2 linked regions of the Homo sapiens genome follow. The protein of the gene in region 1 purifies or fractionates together with the protein of each later gene. This does not show direct contact. Each region holds a gene or a part of one and is shown on either strand. Other genes may lie near its edges. The genes, in order: POLR1F and RRN3.

Region 1 (4,374 bases):
TTCATATGGGAAGACATTTACTATAAAATAGAGTAGACCCAAAAAGTGCAGGTAGTTTGATTCCATGTCTTAAAACATTTTAAAATTCACTACTTAAAAATCTCTAAAACTACACATGGAATTGACAATAGTGGTTATTTCTGGAAGCAGAATTGCCAAGTGGGTGTGTGTGGTGTGGGGAGGAATAGGGAGGGAGATCAATGACTGGTAGAGTGGGAAGATGTATATACTTTTACTATATGAATTTTTAAACAAATATATATTGATTTTGTAACAAAATATCTACTTTTTGAGAAAAAAAGGCAAAGATGACCCATGTGGTGAATGTATAAAACAAATTAAAAGAGATCAAATTTCTGTCATTTTTAAGTATTCTATCCCTGACACACTAAAGTGATAAAAGTGCTTAAAAACCACATTACATATAGGCCAAAAAAAAAAAAAAAGATGCATTTATTGAAACAAGTGAAAATAATAATATCACATCAGAGGCCAAGTGATACCATTTGAAACTGTGCTTTTTATTTATCAATTTAAAATTATCTGTTGATGCTTTCATTATACAAAGGATTCACTGTTAAATACTATAGATATAGTTAAGGCATAATTCCAGCCCTCAGGAAACTTATTTGGTCAAGACAAATTTGATTAAGAGACAAGCTTTACAAACAGGTAAACAGTTTGAAATAATGCACAGTGTTACAAGTAGAAAAATATTTATTAAAGAAAAATAAGAATTATGGTTATGAAGCATGCACATTTAGCCTTGTCTGGAAAAAGTTTATGCGAAGGTGGTGCCTGAGGTCTTTTACATTAGATAACTTCTTAGTCCTCTGTCAGGTTCTCCACCTGGAATGCCACAGCTAGTTTTTCTTCTCCAAGGGTCAAAATGCTGCTCTTCCAACAACAAGCTTAAACACTAAACGTAAAGCATTAAACATTCATTGTTATTTGTACTTGTCATTTATACTTGTGTATCTTATAGACAAAACGGTAAGCCCTTAAGAGCAGAAACTGCTTAAAAGTCATTTCTGTATCACTGGTGACTAGTGAGGTGTCTTGCACAGTGAAATGGGTGAATGATAGGAACTGGAGAGAGGGTAAGGGATCTAGTCTAGGCTATAGGGTTTGTATGAGCAAATTCCAAGATAGAAAAGATAGACTAGGTTAGTGCAGCATGTGCCAAATGTTTTGAAGAATACATAGTGGACACCATCATCAGTCTTTCTGTGTCAGAAAGACAAACAAAAAAAACAATGAACAAAGTTATGCTATTCTAGGAAAGACAAATGGCCAGATCTGACTTTTCAAAACTACTCACATTGTGAAAAAAGCAGGAACAAATCTAGTTTCAAGTTCAGCATGCCGTTCCCTGTTTAATTCATAAAACACAACTGGCAGAAGTATTACTTGAAGCAAAACAAAAGTAACGTGGGAACTTGCTTATTTGCTAAGCCACAATGTATTTTTCCAGGAATAGCATAAATTTGCCATCTTTCTTGTGTCTATGGAAAAGGGGTTTAGAATTGTTTCACTAAAAATTAAATTTCTATATTGTCAAACATGATTGTATACTCAAATTTTAAAATGTGAAGGGAACACTTACTAAGCATTTCCTGGGTATGCCACTATATTAAGTCCTAGTAATATGATATAGTTTATTTCAATTTTTTTTCAACTCATACTTCCTTTAAAATAGCACTGACCAAAAGAAAGTTAACATGAGCTTCATGTACAATTTTTAATCTTTTTGCAGAAAAATAAACTGAGAAAGGCTAAAATTGTTTTATTTAAGCCACTATACCAAGACATATTGATTTCACCAATATAAAAATTGAGATAGTTTACATTTTTTGGTACATCTTTAAAATCTGGTATGTATTTTATACTGACAGCACATCTCAATTTGGACAAGCTACATTTCCAGGGCTCAATAGTCACATGAATCTCAATTGTAATCAAAGAGGTTGGCCTGCATCCTTCCATTGTCTAGCACATCTACTTGTAGACAATTGTGAACATCTGCCACTCTGCCAATTCTATATCCCATCATTGTAAGTTCAGATCAACATATACCACTAGCAGAATTTATTCATTACCAAATATTAAGCTGTGAGACCAGCACTATGTCTGGTACTAAATAAATGGCAACAAAAATGCTGACATGGGAGTTCAACCATTCATGCATTTGCAGATACTAACACAGGTAACAGTGAGTGAACAATCCTCCCCCTTTTTTTCATACCACTTAATACAATTATTAATTTTCTTATTTATTGTGTGTATATGCACATCTGTTTCTCTTATGACATGCCACAAGGGAAGGAACTACATCTATCTTGTTTGCCATTGTATCCCTGGGCCTTAGCAGAATGTGTTATACAAAGTAGATGGTCAAGTGTGTGGAAAATGAATAAATATGGCCATGCATTGATTACCAGCTTCAACCAGCTTGTCATTTCATTACACTTTGTCAATTAGTCAAGAGACATTCCACATTTTCTCAATGAAAGCAGTGAACAGAACAACTGTTTTCTCTTCAGCACAATATCTTATAGCCCATTCCAATCATTAAAAAGTAATCTGAAATTTCCCACTAGTCAGAATCACATTTATCCTGTCTTCATTAGACTGTCCTCCAACACACAACAAAACTAGAATGGCTGAGGCACAAATGAACAAGTACAAGAAAACAGTCCTTTCCAGCAACCTCTCAGACTTAAGAAGACAAGGACACACATGCACTTGGAAGAAAGAAAAGAAAATAATGAATAGCATTTACCACCACACAGTCAGTACTGGCCTGGCTTTTAAGAGCTGTGAAGACTTCAGAAACTTCTTTGGCAAACTATTTTATGTTAAACAATAGAAATACTGTAGAAAGCCATGATAAAGGAAAACCTAAAATTAGTTAATGTCCTGAGTTTTTAAAAAAGCAAAATAAAATAGCATGTAATAAGGTGAAGCCTATTAAACACACACAAAATCAAATCATCAAAATCTCAAACTTAACTCATTCTTTAGTAATATAATATTGTATTATAAAGTCCTTTGGCTAGTCTTGACATTGTAGAAATAATTTTATGTAGAGTGCAAAACCTGGAAGAATATGAGAGCTGACAGTGAGAGCAGCTTTTTATTTTGTATAAAATGGTATTTTAACAATACTGGCTTTCCCCAAATTAATTTACAGTCAGTTTTATCATTTTTAGCATATAAAGCCTCCTACTCCTAGTTAAGTATTTTCTGTTTTGTAAACTACTGGCATACTTAACCTTTTCATATCACTGAAAACATTTATTCATCTATTGTATGTAGATCGATCTTTTAAAAACTGAATCGTGTTTAAAATACACTAAAGAAAATTACTTTTCCCTTTTCTTTTTGGTGAGCATTTCAAAGGTGGGGTAAATTCGGCCTCTTCACTGTGTTTTCTTTTCTTTTTTTTCTTTTTATGGTCACTTTGGTAACCACTGGAGTCACTGCCTTGGAAAACAGGGTCCTGGTCCTGAACTTCCTGGTGCTTTTTCTTCTTCTTCTTTTTCTTTGGCTCCTCCTCCCAGATGCCATTCGCATTATTAGTATTCTGCAGGGCTGACTCTTCCATTGGAGTGTCATCTGCATCATCTGCTAGCTTTGTGGTACCACTGTCCACTTCATATGTCTCTGGGTCTTTCTTCTTTTTCTTCTTTTTAGGTTTTTTAGCAGCTTCCTCAGTGCCATTTTCTGTAACTTCTTCAGAAACTTCAGAGCGCTTGAATTGTAAACTATAAATTAACAGTTAAAAAAATTAACAGAACAATAAGCAAAAAACAAAGAACAAATTGAGATCAAGATATCCCAACAGGCTAAGATTTTCTAAATAATGACTCCAGTACAAGACACATAACCATGGCATAAATTCCAAATATTCTATCCTGTTATCCCTCAACCCACTAAAATATGTATGGGCTGCTGAATGTTAAATTGAAAAATGTTAAATTTAACATTAAATGTTAAATTCTTTCTTTATGAATAACTTCTCCCAGACTGTTTCCACACATAAAAATGACATAAAAATCTTGTCAAAACATGTCTTCCAAGTTTTGGGTTGTTTCAGAAAAATTTGGTCACTGAACATTAAACACCACAATACCTAGGCTTATTAACCAAACCACTGACATCTAATAGAAAATATGATCTGGTATTTATCAAAGCAATGGAGTTTCCAGTCTACTATTTTAATCTTGTTTCAAATAATAGTCCATTGTTCTACTTAGCTGATACTAAGATAGTATTACTTTAACATTGTGAATTATTTTACACCACTAAAATAAAACATGGATCGATGAAGTAGCTTTCTCTCCAGAACTTCAGTCTTATACAGTAGCACTA
Region 2 (7,297 bases), on another chromosome or scaffold:
TTCCTCTGTACCCATGGGTATTATTTAAAGAAACCTATGAACTTACTTAGCATGGTTTGTAATGAAAGGCAGTTGTGTGTTTTTATGTTATTCTGGTTTTTTTATGATGTGTAAAGTTGACTTGAATTTTTCTTTTCTCTAGTACTGTAAAATCATGCCTAGATCTTTTGGTTAACTGGCTGCACATATACCTTAATAACCAGGATTCGGGAACAAAGGCATTCTGCGATGTTGCTCTCCATGGACCATTTTACTCAGCCTGCCAAGCTGTGTTCTACACCTTTGTTTTTAGACACAAGCAGCTTTTGAGCGGAAACCTGAAAGAAGGTCAGTGTTGTGGGAGTGCTGGACTGGATTTTCCTTGTGTTCTTGTCACCCTTCAGAATGGTGATTCATTACTTTTTTGAGATTTTTATAAAAACTGGATTCAGAAAACTGCATGTGCACTCAAACTTTTAATAATAATTTCAAGCAGCTCATAGGCCCCTACAAACCCCTTAAGATAGATTTGAGCTTGAGAACCCTACAAACCCCTTAAGATGGATTTGAGGTTAAGAAAGAGGTTTCTGCCTTTGAAAGTTTGAAATGTGAAGATGTCTCCAGAGGTGAGGCTGAGCCCTGGGCTGTGCCAGCGCCCTGTACAAAGCTTCAGTTGGATGCACCTTCTCTTTGTTGTCCTTGTAACAGCCCAGTAAATGGCAGGTATTCTCCCTTTACAGACAGCACTAAAGCACAGGAAAGTCATTTTCCCAAGATCACATGGTTAGTGGCAGGATTAGAAAACTGAAGCCAGGTTTGGCTGACCCTAAAGTTTGAGTTTATATAGATTAAACTCTGCCTGAAGCCTTGAGACTTAATTGACCAGTATTGTTTTGCTAATTTCTAAGAGTTACTTATAATTCAAATCTGTCAGTTGAAACTTATTAGATTAGTGTATTTTAGTTGAAGAGAGTCTCCAAGAACAGTGTTTATAAGTCATTGTAAATTGTTCTGTTTATGTTTATGAATAATTCTTATGGTTTTGTGGGTCACTTCCTCTAAACCGGGGTCTCTGAACCCTGCACGATTGCCATTTGGGCTGCATCATCCTTCATCGTCGGGGGCTGTCCTCTGCACTGTAGGATGTTTAACAGCCTCCACCTACTAGCTGCCAACAGCAGTCCCCGACCACCCCCAGCTGTGACAACTAAAAGTGTCTCCAGATACTGCCAGGTGTCCTCTGCGGGGGTCGCAGTCTCCTTGGGTTAACAGCCACAGCTCTAAACTGAAAGTTGTATGTGTTGCATTATATATGTTTACCTACATCCTACATGCTTCTAAAAGATGTTGTATGAACTAGTAGGATGAGGTTTTATCACAAGGTAAGTAAATACAAGCTCTGCTTTTCTTTGTATAAATTAATGCCAGGAATCTGGATTAAATATCTTGTTTTTGTAAGCTGTGACATCCCATTTAGGTAATTTTTATTGAAATACGTATCAAAGAAACTCCTAAGAAAATATACTTAAGTACAAGTTGGTCAGCTTGCCTCTTAAAATAAATGTGATGTCTTTATTTTACTCATGTAGAAAAGAATTATATTCATTAAGTCTAAGAAAGTGGTTTCTGTCTAAATTTGCCGTCCGTTGAGGTAGAAGGCAAATTTGGAGTTTTCTTGTTTAGAAAAAAAACTACAGATGACTACTGTGCACCTGAAAACAGCACTCAGCTTCACTAACAAGACATGCAAGCTAGAATCAAATTGCTGTTTTGTTTTGTTGCCTGTCATGATTGTTAGCTGAAACCAAATCACAAGGTCTTTTCTCCCTCTGTATTATCTCAGCATACACTGAGCTTGCAAACATATGAATTTCACATTGTCGTGGAATCTTACAGCCTGCTACTTCCTAAGTTTTCTTTAGAGAAGCTGCCTTGGTGACCAATGAATGTGGTTAGCCTAGTGATACTCTTCTGGGCCATATACTGTGTGACTATCTGCATGGACCTTTATTTAAAGCATTTCTGCAAATAATTTTTTAAAGTTTTTTTTAAATGTGTGATAATTTGTGCTTTTAAAAGTATCTTACACTTTTCACTTATTTGTACCTTTAAAAAAATCTTTTTTTTTTTTAAACCAAAGGTTTGCAGTATCTTCAGAGTCTGAATTTTGAGCGGATAGTGATGAGCCAGCTAAATCCCCTGAAGATTTGCCTGCCCTCAGTGGTTAACTTTTTTGCTGCAATCACAAAGTAAGTTATTTACGCTTTCTTGATGGGAGTTATTTAAAATATTTTTATTTATGTTTATCTAGTATTGTAAGAGTGTTAAATTTCTATGAAATTAGTAACATTATAAAAGGCCAGGCGTGGTGGCTGACACCTGTAATCTCAACATTTTGGGAGGCTGAGGTGGGAGGATTGCTTGAGGCCAGGAGTTAAAAGACCAGCCTGAGCAACATAGTGAGACCCTATCTCTACAAAAAAATTTTAAAAATTAGCTGGGTGTGGTTGCCTGTGCCTGTAGTCCCAACTACTCAGGAGGCTGAGGTAGGAGGATCACTTGAGCCCAGGAAGTCAAGGATGCAGTGAGCCCTGATTGTACCACTGCACTCCAGTCTGGGCTCCAGAATGAGACCCTGTCTCTTAAACAAACAAAAACAACCCAGTCCTTGCAGGAAATACTGTGATACAGCTATTGTTTTTATACTTTGATGGCGTTGGAAATTACTACTACTTCTTATCCAAAGGGCAGCACTTTGAAATAAGTATGGCAACCAGTAAGCTGAGAGGGGCAAAGCCATAGATGCTTATTAGAGTGACTCCTGTAATAGTAATAGAAATAAACTGGACATGAGGCAAATGTTGACCTGTAAGAGATTGGTTTAGAGAGTTCTGTTCTCTCAGGTCTGGTAGCTATGGCTAATCCATAGCCTTTCCTCTGTGCCAGGCAGTTCTAAGCACTTTACATAGAACTCATTTGATCCTCTAGGATGAAACCCTGTTTATCAACAGGGAGGTGGAGGTACAGAGAGGTGAAATCACTTGCCTAAAGTCATAGAGCTAGACTGGCAGCACAGATTTAAATGTAGTCTGGCTCCTTTGTAAGCTTTCACTAAGTTATTCTGCTTTATGGAGAAAGCGAATTGGAGAATTGAATATTCAATGAGGATATTTAGGCCGGATCATAGCTTAAAATCTTCAACAGATAAGAGCCAACAGCTTGCTGAGCTCCGTCAGCCTCTTTAGTTCTCCTTTGCTAGGCGTCTGGTTCAAGGTGTCCTCTCTTCTGAGTCTCAGTGATAGTAAAGGATTAGGAAAAGGCATAAAGAGACCAATAAGCAACGGCAGTGAGTGGGTGGAGGCTTCAGCACGTTGGTTAAGATGGTGAGCAGCTCAAAGAGTGAGGATGGATGAAGCAAAGCAGAGGCCGCTGCCCCTGGTATGTTCTCGGGGTGGGGACAGAGGACTGCATTTGTGAACCATCTGGTCCAGGGGCTCTCGATTTGGGGTTGGCATGCGCATTGGAGGCACAGAGTGTGATGCGATGTGAGGCTAAGAGCAGGGGATTGAAATAAAAGTCTCTGCCTAGGTACAGATATGGTAAATAAAGGCGTGTACCATTCTGTAGCTGTTGCTTTTGCCTGCTTGATGCTTTTGAGATTGAACCATATTGACACAAAGCTTTATTTTGATTTTAACTGCTGTGTTATGTTCTGGGAATCTTTTTTATTGAGTCTTTGTTGGGATTTCATCTGTTAGTTTTTGTCTTTTTTTTTTTTTTTATTTGAGACAAGGTCTTGCTCTGTCACCCAGGCTGGAGTACAGTGGCGTGATCTTAGCTCACTACAACCACCACCTCCGAGGCTCATGCAGTTCTCCTGCCTCAGCCTCCCGAATAGCTGGGACTACAGGCGCCTGCCACCACGCCCAGCTAATTTTTGTATTTTTAGTAGAGATGGGGTTTCATCATGTTGACCAGGCTGGTCTCAAACTCCTGAGCTCAAGTGAACCGCCTGCCTCAACCTCCCAAAGTGCTGGGATTACAGGTGTGAGCCACCGTGCCCAGCCGGCTGTGTTAGTGTTTTAGTGCTCAGGAACATTCTTGTGTGTGGGCACATGCTTCCTTGTCACACACCCGGAAGTGCGGTCAGCTGCGGGGTTGTAGGAGATGCAGATCTTCAACTTTACCTGATAGTGCAAACCACCCTCCAGTGTGGTTTTGCTGATGTGTCCTCCACCAGGAGGAGGGGTCAAGTGCTGTGAGCCTTGGCTAACAGGACAGAAATCAAAGTATGTGGCTTGAAGTTGCCATGGTGACCTGAGAACCTGAGATGGAGAGTGACAGAAGTGAGATCTGAGTCCTCATCTTGGAGAAGCTGTCCAATAGATAATTTTTCAAGTTGCTCAATCATTTAGAGACAACTACTGGAAAAATTAAAAACATAATTGTCTTTATTTTATGTTTTCTTCTATGCATTTAACTGTTCTCACTCGGCATGCCTAGTCCTTTCTGTGCCTGTTTTTGAGGTCATGACTTAGTCAACCCCGTGTCCCTCCTTCAGTAAAGGCTTATTTCTTTTTCAGTGCTTCTTCAGCAAGTCTCTTCACCAACCACTATTTCCTCCTGAGTAACTCCTGAATCCCTTTACCACCAACCTTCTAATTCTTTTGCAAACAGTAAAAATAAAGACACCTATAGTTACGTAATCTAAGAGTTTTGCCTTGCAAACATTTATTTTTAATGAATAGTATCTATTACTCATTAAAATATAATGAATAATATCTATTACTCATTAAAATATAAGCCCAGTTTCACATTCTGAGTGATAGCCACGTTTTCTTTCTCCTTAGCAAACTTGCAAATAGAAGACCCATAGAACGGTACCCTAAAAGTGTTACTTTCTGCTTTATATTGTTATTTTTACTAGCACTTGTTATATTCAGCAATTTCTCTGTGGTAGGTACAGTTGTCACACGCAGCTCACATCTGCACCGAGTCACTCCAGCATGTTAATGCCTCTGTCTGTGTTGTTTTTTTGTTCCACAGTAAGTACCAGCTCGTCTTCTGCTACACCATCATTGAGAGGAACAATCGCCAGATGCTGCCAGTCATTAGGAGTACCGCTGGAGGAGACTCAGTGCAGATCTGCACAAACCCGCTGGACACCTTCTTCCCCTTTGATCCCTGTGTGCTGAAGAGGTAGGTACTTTTAAACATTGACGCTGGAGGAGGTGGATTTTTTTTTTTTTTTTGAGACGGAGTCTCACTCTGTCGCCCAGGCTGGAGTGCGGTGGTGTGATCTCGGCTTACCGCAAGCTCCGCCTCCCGGGTTCACACCATTCTCCTGACTCAGCCTCCCGAGTAGCTGGGACTACAGGCACCCACTGCCACGCCTGGCTAATTTTTTGTATTTTTAGTAGAGACGGGGTTTGACTGTGTTAGCCGGGATGTTCTCGATCTCCTGACCTCGTGATCCGCCCGCCTCGGCCTCCCAAAGTGCTGGGATTACAGGCGTGAGCCACCGCGCCCGGCCAGGAGGTGGATTTAAACGTGATACATGTTTGCTTTTCCCAAAATTGGGATTTAGGGCTCTTCACCAGAAGTGGCCCTTCCTCGCTGTTGATGAGCATCTCGTGGTCTCCCTGCGTATATTTCACCAGATGCAAAGTAGAGGATGCCTAGCAGGACTTGCCGAGTGGCGCAGGCACCCCAGAGTGGGTAGATCTTTGCCTCACTAGGAGCCAGACTGACATCAAGGGTTTTTTGTTTTTTGTTTTTCTTTAAACTGTTATTTAAACATGTAAGGTTAATGGGGATAATGGTGCCAGGATAGGGGAGGGTGCTGTCTTTTCTTGCTTCATAATTTTCTGCCAAGTGTCTTGTTCCTTCCTCTAGAGACCACATACCATTCTGTTGCACAGGATAAACGAAAAACAAACGATTGGCTGGGCGTAATGGCTCATGCCTGTAATCCCAGCACTTTGGGAGGCTGAGGCGGGCGGATCACTTGAAGTCAGGAGTTCAAGACCAGCCTAGCCAAGATGGTGAAACGCTGTCTTTACTAAAAATACAAAAATTAGCTGGGTGTGGTGGTGGCGCCTGTAATTCCAGCTACTCGGGAGGCTGAGGCAGGAGAATCTCTTGAACCCGGGAGGTGGAGGTTGCAGTGAGCCGAGATTGCACCAATGCACTCCAGCCTGGGCGAGAGAGTGAGACTCTGTCTCAGAAAAACAAAACAAAAAAAAAACAAAAAGCGATTTATCTAGATGAGTTGTTCTAGAAAACCACTGGGCCAGCCTTAACTTGGCACTTGTATAAGGAAGCAGGATTTTTGCTTATTATGGTTTCTAAAATAACTAGCAGCATCATGACCATCTGGGATTGTCTGGTCCCTGAAGTCTTGGTTGACTGAAACCAGATTAGTTGTTTTTCCTAGACTTACTTTTCAGCAAATTACTACAGAAATATAAAAAAGAGAGTTCCAGAATATTACGGTTTCATTTCCATTTGGATATACTGTATCTAACTGACTTGTGAGTCTTTGTAAAGTTTAGAAACAATTTCACATGAAAATGGAAAGATGAAAAACGGTAGTTCAATACTCCATCGACATGAGTGAATGAACTCTTATACAGAAAGAGCCACATTAGTTACAGCATTTACATAGAGGGTTGTTTTTTTGTTTTGTTTTTTTCTTTTTTTTTTTTTTTTTTGAGACAGAGTCTTGCTCTGTCTCCCAGGCTGGAGTGCAGTGGCGCGATCTCGGCTCGCTGCAAGCTCCGTCTCCCAGGTTCAGGCCATTCTGCCTCAGCCTCCCGAGTAGCTGGGACTACAGGTGTCCGCCACCACACCCGGCTAATTTTTTGTATTTTTAGTAGAGATGGGGTTTCACCGTGTTAGCCAGGATGGTCTCGATCTCCTGACCTCATGATCTGCCCACCTCAGCCTCCCAAAGTGCTGGGATTACAGGCGTGAGCCACTGCACCCAGCCAGGTTTTTTTTAAATGTAATTATTTAAGCTGTAGTTTTCACTTCTTGGTTTTGGGTAATAGATCTTGTGAGAAAAGATCCAAACCAATTTTGACTTCTGCCGAAGTATTTAACTTGACTTTGAAATGTGATCTTTGTTGACAGGTCAAAGAAATTCATTGATCCTATTTATCAGGTGTGGGAAGACATGAGTGCTGAAGAGCTACAGGAGTTCAAGAAACCCATGAAAAAGGTCAGTTTGTGATTGATTGAGCACACTCTCGGAATCTCCTTTCTGGTTCCAGGTCACAGTGAGATAGTAAGTGGCAAGTCGTTCGTGCGTGTAATC

What was found.
Region 2: the proteins of POLR1F (region 1) and RRN3 purify together in Homo sapiens (affinity purification with mass spectrometry; 3 studies listed by BioGRID and IntAct, with this or other methods). This does not show direct contact.

Annotation. Positions count from the first base shown.
Region 1 is NC_000007.14:19,694,961-19,699,334, forward strand, and holds the end of POLR1F (DNA-directed RNA polymerase I subunit RPA43), read right to left. Parts: intron 3,768-4,374; coding exon 3,356-3,767; 3' UTR 501-3,355; downstream 1-500. UniProt on the Homo sapiens protein: Component of RNA polymerase I (Pol I), a DNA-dependent RNA polymerase which synthesizes ribosomal RNA precursors using the four ribonucleoside triphosphates as substrates.
Region 2 is NC_000016.10:15,063,100-15,070,396, reverse strand, and holds part of RRN3 (RNA polymerase I-specific transcription initiation factor RRN3), read left to right. Parts: intron 1-142; coding exon 143-327; intron 328-2,119; coding exon 2,120-2,228; intron 2,229-5,025; coding exon 5,026-5,178; intron 5,179-7,113; coding exon 7,114-7,201; intron 7,202-7,297. UniProt on the Homo sapiens protein: Required for efficient transcription initiation by RNA polymerase I (Pol I). Required for the formation of the competent pre-initiation complex (PIC).